Homo sapiens: one gene and its partners. The protein of the gene in region 1 purifies or fractionates together with the protein of each later gene. This does not show direct contact. Each region holds a gene or a part of one and is shown on either strand. Other genes may lie near its edges.

Region 1 (3,500 bases):
CTAAGCGGCATTTTTGGTTGATTTGTGTGCTGTATCATAGAGTGCTGCATATTTTCGGACATCTCTTGCTTTAAAAACAATCACAGAGATTTCAATAGGGCCTGGGGTCAAACTAATAATAGTAACAAACGCTAGTTATTAAATATGCAATAAATAATAGGCACTTTTCCCAGAGTTTTCATACATTACATACAACCCAGAAATCCTACAAGGCAAGGCTTATCAAGGTCACTTCACAAAAAGCCTGAGCCTCATAGAGCTTTGCAATTTTCCTGACTTCACGTGGTTCATTAAGTGTCAAAATTAGAACCATAGTCTGAATTTGTTTAGAACCCACACTGTTGCACTCCTTCCTGCATGAAGCACATGTCTGTCTTTTAATTCATTTCTCTTCTCACTACTGCACTGTGTCTCTAGGCAATAAAAAGAAGGAACCTGGGGCCAGTGTACTAAATCCAGATGTAATAAATAATGGAGAAAATGAGAATTGAACACCATTTGGGGACTGCCCGTGGGCCTCATTTTCGTAGGGTCCATCCACCCCTAGCTCCAGGGTTCTTTGGGAGCTGATTTTGCCCAGGTGCTGGCACCTGGGACCAGATCCAGCACTTCCCAAATTACACTGTTCTTTCCTTGAGTCAGCCCCTGTGAGTCCTTGTGCCCAAATCTGGATCCTTACCTGCTGTCCAGCTCTTCCCTGCTTCCTTCCATGAAGGCTGCACCCTGCTCCCTATGGGAAAGAAAGCCCAGAATAACTTTCCTTCCTTTCTCCTGACTTAGAGCTTTCCAACTCCCTGCAGATGTCCTCTGTTTTGTCACATCACTCACTTGGAACTTCTCTGATAACAGCCCCTTCCATGTAATTGTTTACTTTGGCAGTGAACACTACATACCTGCTCATCTGCTCTGAGTAATTCCACCACACTCAAGATTTTTTCCAAGTCTGCCTGTGAGTCAGGTCAGACTTGGAACAGAATCTAACCTTGAAAGATAACTCTGAAGTTAGAGAGGAGGTGTAGAAAGCAGATGAAGTTAGAAAGAGAGGAGAATGTAATCTGGTGACTTATTTGAGACTAGCACTGAATCCATACACTAGTGAGCTTAAGTGAATGGTGAAAATATCGAAGCCTCTGTCTCAAGTGGTGGATAAGGAAGGACCTAGGAAATAACTGTGTATCAACCATGTCCAGAAATTGGATTCCTATAAATCCTGGTGTACTAGGAGCATGTAGTAGATTTCTATGCTGACATAACAAATGCCATACAGTAAGACACTTAAAATAACATATTGATTAGATCACCCTTCTGTAGGTGAGAAGTATGGGTTGGTTCTGCTGGTTTCTTTGCTTAGGGTTACACAGGCCCAAATCAAGCTGTCAAAGCCTGGCTTCTTATTGGGACACACTGTGAAGAATCCCATTTCAGGCTTATTCAGGTCATTATATGAGGAACCCAGTTCTTTGTGGTTGTAAGAAGAGTGAGGAGTAAGTCTCCTTTCAGGCTATCAGTTGGAGCTGCCATATTTTCTCCAGGCCTGTGTCCAGTCTTTGCATGTGGGCCTCTACTTTTGAGTCAGACTTGGGACATTGAACCTGTCTCACGCTTGGAATTTCTCTAACTTCTGTCTCTGCTGCATATCTCTTCTGCCTCCAGGTGGAGAAACTTCTCTGCTTGTAAGGGCTCATCTAATTAGATTTGGCCCATGTAGGCAATCCAGTGTAATCTCTCTATTTTCAGGTCGGTTTCATAATTTTAATTATATTTGCAAAGTGCCTTTGGCCATGTAACATAACATATTCATGGGTTTCAGGAATGAGGATATGTGAATCTTCGTGGAGCAATTATTCAGTCTACCACAGAGGTAGAATATGTCTCTCTGGCAGACATGCCAGCTTTGATAAGAAAAGAAAAACCATAATTCGCCATCATTCTCCTGATTCTTGTCTGTATCTGCGCCAAGGGAAAATCCTGGTTTTTCATTGCGCCTAAGGGCACCTGTACATGTGCTCAGGTGTACATGTTCATCAGGTGGTGGGTAGCAGGACTCACAAGTTACGTTTTTAACAATACATCAAAAGAAGGAAGAAATTTTTCAGTCTCTTGAGATTATAGAGGTCATTGAAAAGGTCAGTGCAGAAAGGTGTTATTGAGTGCAGCGGGGTGAACCCTCCTTGCTGAGATTTACAGGATCGTTTTGAAAATTAGTGTGATTCTGGATTTGAAATTACCTGTCACATATAGACACTAGAAAATGTTGTTGTTTAGCAAAGATATTTGATATTCTCAGAAACTCCTCCAAGACTTAAGAAGGGTGTTTTCATAACAAATTTATAGTAGTAGCTTTTATTGAGCTTTTACTATTATAATAGTTAATTGGACAGACTGCAAGTGCTCATCCACTTTGTGTCTTGCTTTCTATCCTTGGTTCATATGGAGACTACATTGCCAGTCCACTTGTAGTTTGGAAAGGTCATGTGACTACCCCCCTTGACACTGAAATATGAACAGTAGCATGCTTTTCCCTTTCAGATCAAAGTGTTTGAGAGCCAGTCTGCCACCTCCATGCCTTCTCTTCCATGCTGAGATATGGAGCCACAGTATAGAAGCAGCATGGATCCCTGGGACACCTGACAGCAAAAAATCCCTATTAATTAATATCAAAGTTTATTTGCATAAGAGATAAACCTTTAGTGTGTTAAGCCATTGAGATTTCAGCCTTTTGCCATTACATCTCATACATACTTTATCTGTACAATACACAACTACTAATTCCATTGTTATTATTATTTAAATATTTTAATTACCAAGAAAATAGTGTATGTATTCTTGTTGCCAAAAATTCTAATACAGATAAATCAAAATTTCGCTTCCTTACTATGTCCCTCCAAAATTCAATACCTCCTCATATGTAACCACATTTTTTAAATCCTGCATGTAGTATTTTTAAATGTATTATAGGCTTTCTCTTATATACATGTGCAACAAAAATACACTGTGAGGGTTTTTTTGCTTTTGTTTGCTCCTTTTTCTTCTTAATTTTTATTTACTTATTTATTTCTTTTAGAGACGGTGCCTCGCTCTGTTGCCCAGACTGGAGTGCAGTGGTGTGATCATAACTCAGTATAGCCTAGAACTCCTGAGCTCAAGCAATCCTCCCACCTCAGCCTTTCAAGCAGCTAGGAGTACAGTTGGGAGCCACTGTACCTGGTTACTGTGAGTTTTAAATATACATTGATAACTGTTTACATATTGCTCCACAATATGCCTTAGAATTTTGATATTTCAATAACACATTTCTCTTTACTTTGAGAAGAAAGGATTTACTCAGAATGACAAGGTTCCAGGAAATGTGCCTTAACAAGAAAACCTCAATTAGTGAAGGACATCAGGAAAACTGGGCACTGGAACAATTTCCAGAATCCACGAGAGAGATCATAAGCTAAACAAAGTCCAGAGAACTCAGGGCACGGGGTAGTCAGGGATCTGTATCCAGAGTTCAG
Region 2 (4,231 bases), on another chromosome or scaffold:
GCCGGACCCACCGCCGATTCGCGGAGGACCCGCGGGCTTAACGGACGCGGAGACTGCCGGAGGGCTGCTCGGCGGTGGCGGCCCGCTCTGTGTCGCTCACTCCCGCCGCTCCCGCCCGCAGCCGCTGTTTCTCGGCGCCGCCCGCCCCGCCTCCCGAGAGGCTTCGGGGACTAGACGTTGGACGCGGATTCTTCCAGCGCTGCGCCCCGGGTCCGCCTCCTCCTCCGAGAAGCACCCCCAGACCCCGCCATCCTCCTCCTCCGGGAAGCCCCCCACCAGGCCTCGCCCTCCTCCTCCTCCGAGAAGCCCCCCTAGGCCTCGCCATCTTCCTTCTCCGAGAAGCCCCCCAGGCCCCGCCATCCTCCTCCTCTGGGAAGCCCCCGGCCTAGCCCTCCTCCTCCTCCTCCTCCGGGAAGCCCCCCTAGGTCTCGCCTTCCTTCTTCCCCGGGAAGCCCCCCACAGGCCTCGCCCTCCTGTTTCTCCGAAGAGCCCTCCTAAGCCTCGCCCTCCTCCTCCTCCAAGGAGCCCCCCTAAGCCTCGCCCTCTTCCTCCTCCGAGGAGCCCCCCAGGCCTCGCCCTCCTCCTCCCCCGGAAGCCATCCCCGCTCCCCCGACCCCCTAACTTGCTCTCCTCCGGGGAGCCCCGGGGCCCCGCGGCACCAAGAAGTCGAATGGGACCCCGAGGCCAATCCGCCCGTGTTCGCCTCACGCGCCCCCTCAGCGCCAGGGCTGGGGGAGCCGTGCCTGCGCCCCGCGGCGCCCTTGTCGCGGGGTCTGGCTGTCCAGGCCCGGGGGCCCGGGTGTCAGGCTGGTAGCGGGAAGGAAGGCGCCGGCCTCCCCACCGTCTTCGTCCCGTGCGGCGTCCCCGGGAAGAGCCGCGGTCGGCACCCAGAGGGCCATGGACGGGGAGCGCCCTGCGTGGTGTTCGTGGCGCTGGCCCGGTCTCCGCGGATCGGAGGCGAAGCCAGCCTGGCCCTCGGGTCGCCCGTCTTTTGTCGAGCTGGCGACATCAGTGCGGTTCCCACTGCCCCTCGCGTTTTCCACTGGACTCCCTGCTTTTTATTGTTGATTTGTGGGAGCTCTTTGCATAGGAGCCCCGCCGTTGCAGTCTGGCGTCCTCGCAGGCGCGTGCCTTCGGAGCGCCGGGTGGGCTGCGGGCGCGGCGGGACTCCCGGTCTTCCCCGGGGCGGACACCGGCGTCACCGCGTCCTACGGAGCCGGGCGCCGAGCGGGAGGCGCATCTGGGCCCCACCGGGGCTGCCCGCACCGAGCACGCGAACGCGCCCTCCCGCCCTGAGGCCGCCGGCGTTGCGGTCGGAGAACCATAGAGCCACTCGGCTGGGCGTGGCGCGGCGGGGCGGGGAAAGGGGCGGGGCCTGGGCGGCGGAAGTGCGCAGCCGCGCGGCATTCTGGGGCCGGAAGTGGGGTGCACGCTTCGGGTTGGTGTCATGGCAGCTGCGGGGAGCCGCAAGAGGTAAGCCGCGGGTCCGAGGGCCGATTTGGCCTCCCGGTGGGTGTCTGTATCCAAGGGGGCTTTTCTTGCTCCTCTCAGCGGGGCTGGGGCGAGCTGGGCGTGCGGGCAGCTGTGACTCCTGCGTGACCCGCAGGCGCCTGGCGGAGCTGACGGTGGACGAGTTCCTAGCTTCGGGCTTTGACTCCGAGTCCGAATCCGAGTCCGAAAATTCTCCACAAGCGGAGACACGGGAAGCACGCGAGGCTGCCCGGAGTCCGGATAAGCCGGGCGGGAGCCCCTCGGCCAGGTTAGTGGGGACATGCGTGAGCAGAACCTCTTGCTCGTCCTGTCCCACCCCGGTTGGGTTGCTGACCTCGCCTGGGGTCTCAGGGCCAAGGCCTAAGGATCGCCGACCTCTGCCCCCCAGTCCTTTCAGCTTAACTTACTCTTTCATCCGATGTTTACTGAGCTCCTGTTCCGTGCCAAACTCTGTCCTAGGCAGGGAGCGTATGTTGGTGAGTTGTGCAAAAATCTCTTCCCGATCTAGGAGAACTCTCACGTTCTTGGGTGAAATCACCGCCTGCAGTTCGGTAGAAGAGAGATAAGTGCTGGGGAGGGAAAGGAAGGACAGAGGGGCTGAAGAGAGAGTTGCAGGGGAGCCGAGTTGCTCTGTTAGAAGGAGCGGAGGCTGTGCTCGGTGGCTCACGCCTGTAATGCCAGCACTTTGGGAGGCCGAGGCGGGCAGATTACCTGAGGTCAGGAATTCGAGACCAGCCTGACCAACACGGAAAAATCATGTCTCTACTAAAAATATAAAAATTAGCCGGGCGTGGTGGGCACCTGTAATCCCAACTACTCGGGAGGCTGAGGCAGGAGAATCGCTTGAACTTGGGAGGCGGAGGTTGCAGTGAGCCGAGATGGCACCATTGCATTCCAGCCTGGGTGAGAGAGTGAGACTCCATCTCAAAAAGAAAAAGAAAGAAATCAAAAGATACAAAAATTAGCCTGGCGTGGTGACACACACCTGTCGTCCCAGCTACTCGGGAGGCTGAGGCAGGAGAATCGCTTGAACCCGGGAGGCGGAGGTTGCGGTGAGTGGAGATTGCGCCACTGCACTCCAGCCTGGGCGACAGAGTGAGATTCCGCCTCAGGAGAAAAAAAAAAAAAAAAAAAAGCGGAGGTGGTTGTTTGAGAAGATGACGTCTGAATAAAGACCTCGAACAAGGAGGCCACACAGACAGTAGGGGAAACGTGTCTTAGGATTTCAGGCAGCAGAAAACAGCAAAAGCCTTGCAGTGGGAGCATTTGGGGAGAGTACAGAGGTAAACGTGGCTACGGCAGGAGTGAGGGGGTGAATAGGGGTAGATGAGCCCAGAAGGGTGATGAAGAGCCAGGTGCCGTAGACCGTCATAAGATTGCCTCGTAAAACAGGGAGTTACTTCTGGGTTTGAGCGGTGGAGTGCCTTGTAGGTGACAAGGGTGGAAACAGAGAGACCTTTAGGTTAACTGAGAATTGAACTATGTGGTGGTTTGAGAGGAGGCACGAACGGTTTTGAAGGTGTTGCTGATGAGATCTGATGACAAGTTGCGTGCTGGGTATTAGAGACAGAGATTTGCCTTTAGTCTGAGCCTCTGGAAGGGTGAAGCCACCATCAGGCAAAAGTAGCGCAGGGCACAGGCACAGCAAGTCCAGGGAAGACCGCGGCTGGGGGCCTGTGTAGCGCAGGGCGCAGGCACAGCAAGTCCAGGGAAGACCGCGGCTGGGGGGCCTGTGTAGTGTGTTTGAGGGTATGTTGTAGAGGTTGTTGGGTAGGAGACGTGAGTCTGCCAAAAACGTACCTCCTGGCAATCCTGTCTTGCTAGTTGGTAACCCTTGTGAAGGGAGTAGACTGACCCTGTAGGCCACTCCCCGCCCCCTCTACTTCCACTTCCCACTGGGGTCGCTGACTTCTGCCTCCTCAGCCGGCGTAAAGGCCGTGCCTCTGAGCACAAAGACCAGCTCTCTCGGCTGAAGGACAGAGACCCCGAGTTCTACAAGTTCCTGCAGGAGAATGACCAGAGCCTGCTAAACTTCAGCGACTCGGACAGCTCTGAGGAGGAAGAGGGGCCGTTCCACTCCCTGCCAGATGTGCTGGAGGTGAGGGCGTGGGCCAAACCAGAAGGGGGGCACTTGTCTCTACACTCTCCTTCAGCTCAGCCTTTCTGTGCAGGAAGCCAGTGAGGAGGAGGATGGAGCGGAGGAAGGAGAAGATGGGGACAGAGTCCCCAGAGGGCTGAAGGGGAAGAAGAATTCTGTTCCTGTGACCGTCGCCATGGTTGAGAGATGGAAGCAGGCAGCAAAGGTGAGCAGCAGCCAGGGGCGGGCAGCTGGGTGCCCAGGCAGAAATCTGGCCTTGCCTCACCTGAGGTGAGCAGCAGCGAGGGGCGGGCAGCTGGGTGCCCAGGCAGAGATCTGGCCTTGCCTCACCTGAGGCGCCTGAGGCTGTGCTGGTGGGAGGGGCTGTTCTCCACGCAGGGGACGCTTGGAGCCTTCTTCAGCGCAAGTGACAACACGTTGCTCCTCCTGCTTGCTTGGTTGCCCCAGGACTGTGTGTTCACTTTTGGGTAGATTCCAGGGGCTCTGTTGGCGCCCCACTCCCCAAAGTCAGTCCCGCTGTGGGTGGGACGGACTGTGCCTTTGTTGGTTGGTGGAGCTGGGGTCCTTCTGAGCCTCTCACAGTGTTTTTTTCCAGGGACAAGGATACGGAGAGCTCCAGATACCACCTGGAGGTGGCCATAG
Region 3 (3,776 bases), on another chromosome or scaffold:
CTCAAATTGTCTTCATTCTTTTGAAAACATTTTTATTGTATTATAGCTTAATAATCAGTACTCAATAATGATGCATGTAGTCTATAACTGAGGAGTAAATATGAAACCTGAAACCTCAAAGCATTGGTTAGGATTAGACTCAGCTGTGAATAACAACAATAATAACAAATAACAGTGGCACAAACAATATACAAGTTTTATTTTTCTTTCACATTTAAGAAATCTGACAGAGCCAGTCCAAGGCTGGCCTGGTGCTCCAGTGTCGGGGACCAAGCTCTTTCTGTCTTTTTGTGCCACTATGGGAGGATTCCATTTTTAAGATTACCTCATAGTCTTAGATAGTTGCAGGCACTCCAACCATTGCATCTAATTTCTTGCCAGCGGGTACAGAGATGCTCATACCTGCTCCCTCTGAAGGTGCTTGTGTGATTGGCGTGTTCCCTTTACCTTTTATCCCATTGCTAAAACAAACATGACTATACTTAACTGCAAGGGAAGCTTGAAAATATATCCAGCTAGGCTGGGTGCAGTGGCTCATGCCTGTAATCCTAGCACTTAGGGAGGCCAAGGCAGGAGGATGACTTAAGACCAGGAGTTTGAGACCAGCCTAGGCAACATAGTGAGACCCCCGTCTCTACAAAGAAAAAAAAAATGTGCTAAAAATTGGAAGCTTTTATTACGGTGGACTGACAGGAAAATGGTTGTCTGGGGAATGAGAAATTAGATTTATTGTATATAACCCATGGGACAAAGCTGAGCCCCGTTGAATGGAAGTTACATAAAGGGCTTAGCATAAGAAAAAAGTGTCCTAGCAATTGGAGCACATTGGCATGGAATCACTTGCTCAGATACTAGATTCTCTGGCACAGAAACCTTCGAGAACAGGCTAGACTACAATCTCTTTGGAAGGTTCTAGAGAGGATTTATGAGTCAGATAAAGAGCATTGGATTATGTAGTTATGATCCCTTTCAAAGTTAAAGTTTTATGATTTTAATGTAATTTCAGATCTTAACAATTGCATTTCACAGTACAGGGAAAGACTCAAGTACAGCTTTCTACCCAGTTTTTATGTTTTGTCATGATTTCAGGCTATGGCACGTTTGCACTGTACATGAAATGAGTCTGTCTATTTTGCCTTTTTCCTGTGTTTTCTACTGGCGTGGCCCTGTTTGATTTACTTTCTTTTATGATATATAATTTTAAACAGACTCCGCAAAGGAATAAATATCCTTATCTCAACTCCTGGACGCCTGGTGGATCATATAAAATCCACAAAGAACATTCATTTTAGTCGGCTGCGGTGGTTGGTGTTTGATGAAGCAGACAGGTGAGCCTCGTCCCAGGATGATAACAGGTAGAAGAGAAGGGCTGTTTCTCCTCTCCTTGTTGCAACTTCTGTAGCCCCTTAGACCACATCTGCTCTTCATATAGTTGAAAATTTCTTTTTTTTTTTACAATCACAGAATCTTGGATTTGGGTTTTGAAAAGGACATCACAGTGATACTTAATGCTGTAAATGCTGAATGCCAAAAACGACAGAATGTCTTGCTATCAGCGACACTCACAGAAGGTGAGTTGAAAAGAAGTGATGGGTCCTTCTTTGTTCTTAATGAAGAGGAAGGACCTAGATTTAACCTGGGTTGTTTGCTGCAGTGATTCTCAACCTCAGGGAGGTGGGGGCAGGGAGAGAGCTGTCCTTAGAAGACTGCCTTTTCAAACTCTATGTTCTACACTCCCAACTTCCCTCTGCAAGTCATCCAAGACAGATATGTTCCCCAGGGCATGGGGAAAGGGAGAAAGGGCAGGGATGAGGACGAGAAAAGACTGGCTGCTATTGGCTTGGTGGTTTCATGAGGTTTTTGTGCACTTGCAACCCATGGAGAGCAGGGCCCTTGCACTGAAGATGATGACCTCTTATCTGAGTGCATTTTTAATGTAATCACTCTTCCTCCTATAGAGCTATTAAACTTAAAAAATATATCAATGAAGCGCTTCTCTGTCTTCCATCCATGTGAGATGGAAATTCTTAGCTCTCTTTTTTATCACTGGGAACACGAAGGCTTGGAAAAGTTGTATCACTCTACCAGATCCACCCCACACAGTGAGTCATTGACCAGCAGTGCAGCTTTCACGTTTTTCTGTCTGGTTTCCTTGATTTACTAGGCCACATTATGATGTGCATGTACCAGATGCCATGCATGTGGTCCCTCACAGTTCCCTATGTTCTAATTTTTGAGGGATGATTCACGAAGAAGGGATTCTGTGGTCAAGAAAGTTTGAGAAATGCCCCACATCCCTCCCTTGGATATTCTCAGGGCACATTAACACAATAAAGGCCCTGAGAGGGCTGCTTATAGCAAAAACGCTTTTGTGAAACCTTTGAAATCCAAGATTTGCCATAACTTACTTGACCAAAGAACCCTTTTGGGAGGTGGGGGTGGGCGCAGTATCTGTTGCTATCTTTTGGACGCTGTTCCATAGGTGAGTGTTTATAGAATGGCTATGGAAAGATACGTTGGTAGATCTCCCTGCAACACACACGTTGGCACTAGGGCGGATCAGTGCTGGGACTTGGTGATACCCATGGGGTAACATACGTAGTCCTAACATACATGGGTGGGTGCTGTATGGGGGTACGCTTTTGTGACCAGTTTCATGGTGTGTTTGTTGTCTGCTTTGCCCTTCTTACTTTTATCCAAGGTGTAACGCGGCTAGCTGATATCAGTTTGCATGATCCAGTCAGTATTTCTGTCCTGGACAAGAGCCATGACCAGTTGAACCCAAAGGACAAAGCGGTCCAGGAGGTCTGTCCTCCACCAGCTGGCGACAAGCTGGACAGCTTTGCAATACCAGAGAGTCTCAAGCAGCATGTGACTGTGGTTCCCAGCAAACTGAGGCTTGTCTGCCTAGCGGCCTTCATCCTTCAGAAATGCAAGGTGGGACTGTGGGCTAGAGCCGACTTGATTCAGGGAAGAAAGGCCTGCTTTCTTGTGTTAAGCCATTGGGAGCAATGAGTTGAGACACCAAAAATCAGAGGTTTTCCAACTTATGTCTGCATTCCGGATGCAGACTTTGATATACATCCTTTCAGTCAGGTTTTAGGATTATGGTAAAAACTCAGAGGTCAATGATAGCCATGATGTTCAGCTTGAAATGTTCTCGATACCTTTCCTGGGACTGATATTAGGAACATCACAGGTGGCGGGAACAGCTGGATGTGAGGCAGACGTAGGGGCTTGTGCTCATGTTTCTCCAAGAGTCTTGGCATTTGTGTATTTATTTACTAGATTTCTGCGCTGACTCTGAGATGTGAGAAAATAGTAAGTGGAAGGGCTTAAGGGTGAAGGTTTTCTGCATATGTAGGGTCTCAGCCAGGTAGTGTTGCATGTGGCAAGCCCTGGGCGAATAAAGGGAACGGAGCTCCCACACAGCTGTGCTCCCAGGTGTGTTTATTTTTGTCAGATAAGGGAAACCTGTTTGAAATGATAGCTGTGTCGTTTTCCTCTCCTGCATTCTTTGTAGAGTGGAGTATCACTGTTTTTGTTTTTGTTTTTTTAAATAATTCAAAGATAGTCACCTTTATTTCCAAATGGGGGTCAGCATGACTGTATAGTTTAGAGAAATATTCGTTTTGGCGTCACCTAATCTTAAAATATGTCGGTTTTTCCTCCCTTTGTATCGATGTAGTTTGAGGAAGACCAGAAGATGGTTGTCTTTTTCTCAAGTTGCGAGCTGGTGGAGTTCCACTACAGCCTCTTCCTACAGACCCTGCTGA
Region 4 (3,383 bases), on another chromosome or scaffold:
TTTTTTGTGTGTGAAAAATCAGACCTTGGCGATGACCTTGAGCAGTAGGATATAAATAACTCCTACAAGCTTAGTGTTCTGATAATGGAACACTAGTAGGCATAAATGGGTTAATCCCATTCATGGCTTAATCACCTTTTAAAGCTTTTGCCTCTTAATACCATCACATTGACTGTTAAGTTTCCGTATCTGAATTTTGGAGGGGACACATTGAAACTATAGCACCTTACAATGTACTCATTACCCAGAATTAATATTTTGCTGTAGGTTTTTTCCGTTTGCAAGCCCATTGGTTTCTGTAATTCAGAGATCATAGTTTGGTGACCTGTGGGCCAGGCCGATTTTTCTGGCCTCAAGAGTTTGAAAAAAATTGAATTAGTTGCTGTCTTTTAAATATTGAAAGAATTCATCTGAAATTCACATTTCCCGCTTTTCTTGAAATACTGGGAGGTTTGGTGACATTGGCTTGTATTTTACATGACAGTAGTCAGTCAGTTGCTGCCTCCTCTACATGAGGCAAGAGCTCTGCAGTTTTCCATGAGCCCTTTCCTTCTGAGTAGGATGGAGATAACTTTTGGCCTTATTAAATAAAATGGCCATTTACTTTTTCTTCCCTCACACTTCTCACCTGTCCCCAGTCTTCACCCCACCAGCCTTTTTTTTTAAAAGGAAAAAAGGAGAAAACAATTCTTTGTCACTCTTCATAATGATTATTTTATGGCATGTTTTCCTTAGCAGTTTTGCTAAGGAAAGATGTTTCCTTTGTGGAGAAGGATGAGGAATGAGCTTATCCCAAAGGCTTAAGAAAGGAGACTCATAGTGGGCTTCTGGAGAGTGGGTATTGGGATGTGAGCCTAATTGCTACCTTCGTAGGCCCTTGCCTATGTGTTTTGGCGAGTGTGAACTAATTCCAAATCATTAAGGATTCATTTACACGCCATGGGTATAGACATGTATTCTGTCCTGAATGGCCTTTCCTTGTTTTTCATCCAGGCCAGTAGCTGAAGAGTTGAGCTGTGTTCTAAGTCTGTGGAGAATGACTCCATGCTTCAGTCCTCTGGCTCCCATGACTAAGATATACTTAGTTGCATTATCAGTGGGTTGGGATTTGATCACACTGAACTGGAGTTCTTCAGCTTAGCTTTCTCTCTGGAGTCTATGCCTGTATTGCTAAATGTATACCAAACCTCTCTGAGGTGGATTTAGTTGGATAATGTTGACATTACAATGGGAATTTAGAATTTGTTAAGTGACTGGATTGGTTGGTTAGTTTCAAATCTTATACCTTAATATATGGGTTAAGAATGAATCATTCTCTGAGTATAATCTAATTATTTTTGAGTTACACAGATGTGGTGGTATCTTTACATTTTTTGTGTTTGTGATTTAGATCTGCTACTGAACTTTTTGAGGCATATAGCATGGCAGAAATGACATTCAATCCTCCTGTTGAATCTTCAAACCCCAAAATAAAGGTATGGGATATTTTTCATTTTTTTAAAGGAAGAAATAGAAACCAATGTATCTCAATAACTCTAACTCCAGTTTGCTTAATTATTTTATAGGTAGTTTTTTTTTTAATGTTTAGGATTTCATCATAGGATGGATTTCTGAGGTTGAAATTCTATAGAGATGATCATGAAACTGTTCGTTCAATATAGGATATGTCCAAGACCTTACCAAGCATCTGTCATTGTGTTGCATGTGTTGGTGTCAGCTGTTGCCATTTTCAACTTGGTTCACAGGTTGGCTTTAGCTTATAGCATAAGTAACTTCTAACTCATACTTTAAATATTTTCCTAGGGTAAATTTTTACAAGGGGATTCATTTTTGAATGAAGATTTAAATCAGCTAATCAAAAGATACTCCAGTGAAGTTGCTACTGAATCGCCTCTGGATTTCACGAAATATTTGAAAACATCACTACACTAGTAGAGGAATGAAGTCAGTGGACTTTCTTGTATATTTGTGTGTGCAGATGTACATAAAGATGAGTTGTTAACTTAGGATCTTTTCTTTTTATACAAGGAAAGCTTCCTAAGAATGTCTAGGAAGAAGAGGAAGAATGACCCTTTGCATGGCACAGGGTTCTGCCCCTATTCTGAATATGTCATTCCATCAAGGAGATCAAAAGCCTTTTTTTCTCCCCAGTATTTGGAAATTACTTTCTTGATGATGCTGCCTTTTAAAAGCTTCACGTACATTATAGTTTTTTAAAAAAATCTTTGGACTGGATCTTACTGAAGTGCAGTTGCTATATTAAAATTAGGGCATAGAGCACAGAAAAATCAAGACCATGAGAAGACATTTTACCATTTAGCTACTTTTTATAACTAAATACTCTTTAAATATTTTTATTTCAATACTGTGGATGGAAATGAGAAGCATTCTAAATTTGAGTTAATATATTTTTATGAAGATATTTGAGAAAAGAAAAAAATAGCTTGTATTCAGGTTCATTGGCTTTTGCTGGATGATCCACCTAAAGAAGTTACCTAATTTGGCCTTTTAAAAAAGGTGTTAGTGTTTATTATAGCTACTTTCAAGGAAAGTTTGAATATGATTCTAGTCTCTAAAGTTCTTCACGTTTTCTGACATTCCCTGGAGGGTGACTGGGGAAGAATTGCTCCAGGGTAGAAGAACCAGGCCCAAGACTTTACCATTCTGATCTAGAGACAAAGGATACTCAATGAGGAGCTTTTTTCCCCTCTTGGAACAGGTAAAATGCTTTTTCTTATTAATATAATTATAAAACAGTATTTTATGTAACAGCTATTCCCATATTCTAGGAGTGGCCTAAGAAATGCGTGTTTCAGTGACTAGATTATAAATATTCTCTATTGTGAATAGTTGAATAAAACAGCTGTTTTTTTCTGCTTCCTATTCTTGTGATATGATAATTTTTTGAAAAAAGCACAGCAGTCCAACTAAAGAGATCTCTTACTGTTTGAAAGTCATAGCAGCCAGTTATTTTACTCTGGAGCTTAGAGTTCTTTTTTCACATGAAGTAAACGAAAGTAGAAAATTCCTTTACCATTCCAGCAGAGTGAGAGGATATGAGCTTAACAGTGTATGTCAGTCTTTTAGCATATTATATATGATTTTTAAAAGTGGTTCTGAGGTCACATTTTTTAAGGCTTGATTATTTAATGAGAAAGGTATGATTCAGCATATGAATATTTGCTTTTAGTCCACCTTTTAGGTATAAAACAAAGTCCAGGAATGTGATAAATATTTGTGTGGATAACCAAAGGGTCTAATCCCCATCAGAGCACAAGTGACCAATACATGTCACAAATTATTTATTTTCCACACATATACAAATACATTTATACTTTACTTTGGCAGCAGAAACTATACTTCTGGTGAAAAATCAGCTTAAA

What was found.
Region 2: the proteins of MAGEB10 (region 1) and NOC2L purify together in Homo sapiens (affinity purification with mass spectrometry; 2 studies listed by BioGRID and IntAct, with this or other methods). This does not show direct contact.
Region 3: the proteins of MAGEB10 (region 1) and DDX31 purify together in Homo sapiens (affinity purification with mass spectrometry; 2 studies listed by BioGRID and IntAct, with this or other methods). This does not show direct contact.
Region 4: the proteins of MAGEB10 (region 1) and NOC3L purify together in Homo sapiens (affinity purification with mass spectrometry; 2 studies listed by BioGRID and IntAct, with this or other methods). This does not show direct contact.

What each region holds. Positions count from the first base shown.
Region 1 is NC_000023.11:27,814,490-27,817,989, forward strand, and holds part of MAGEB10 (melanoma-associated antigen B10), read left to right. Parts: intron 1-3,064; 5' UTR 3,065-3,213; intron 3,214-3,500.
Region 2 is NC_000001.11:956,457-960,687, reverse strand, and holds the start of NOC2L (nucleolar complex protein 2 homolog), read left to right. Parts: upstream 1-1,431; 5' UTR 1,432-1,447; coding exon 1,448-1,473; intron 1,474-1,606; coding exon 1,607-1,759; intron 1,760-3,414; coding exon 3,415-3,589; intron 3,590-3,662; coding exon 3,663-3,794; intron 3,795-4,231.
Region 3 is NC_000009.12:132,645,984-132,649,759, reverse strand, and holds part of DDX31 (ATP-dependent DNA helicase DDX31), read left to right. Parts: intron 1-1,208; coding exon 1,209-1,328; intron 1,329-1,464; coding exon 1,465-1,571; intron 1,572-2,701; coding exon 2,702-2,937; intron 2,938-3,688; coding exon 3,689-3,776. UniProt on the Homo sapiens protein: May have DNA helicase activity and RNA helicase activity. Probably have ssDNA and RNA dependent ATPase activity. Plays a role in ribosome biogenesis and TP53/p53 regulation through its interaction with NPM1.
Region 4 is NC_000010.11:94,332,726-94,336,108, reverse strand, and holds the end of NOC3L (nucleolar complex protein 3 homolog), read left to right. Parts: intron 1-1,390; coding exon 1,391-1,475; intron 1,476-1,803; coding exon 1,804-1,932; 3' UTR 1,933-2,883; downstream 2,884-3,383. UniProt on the Homo sapiens protein: May be required for adipogenesis.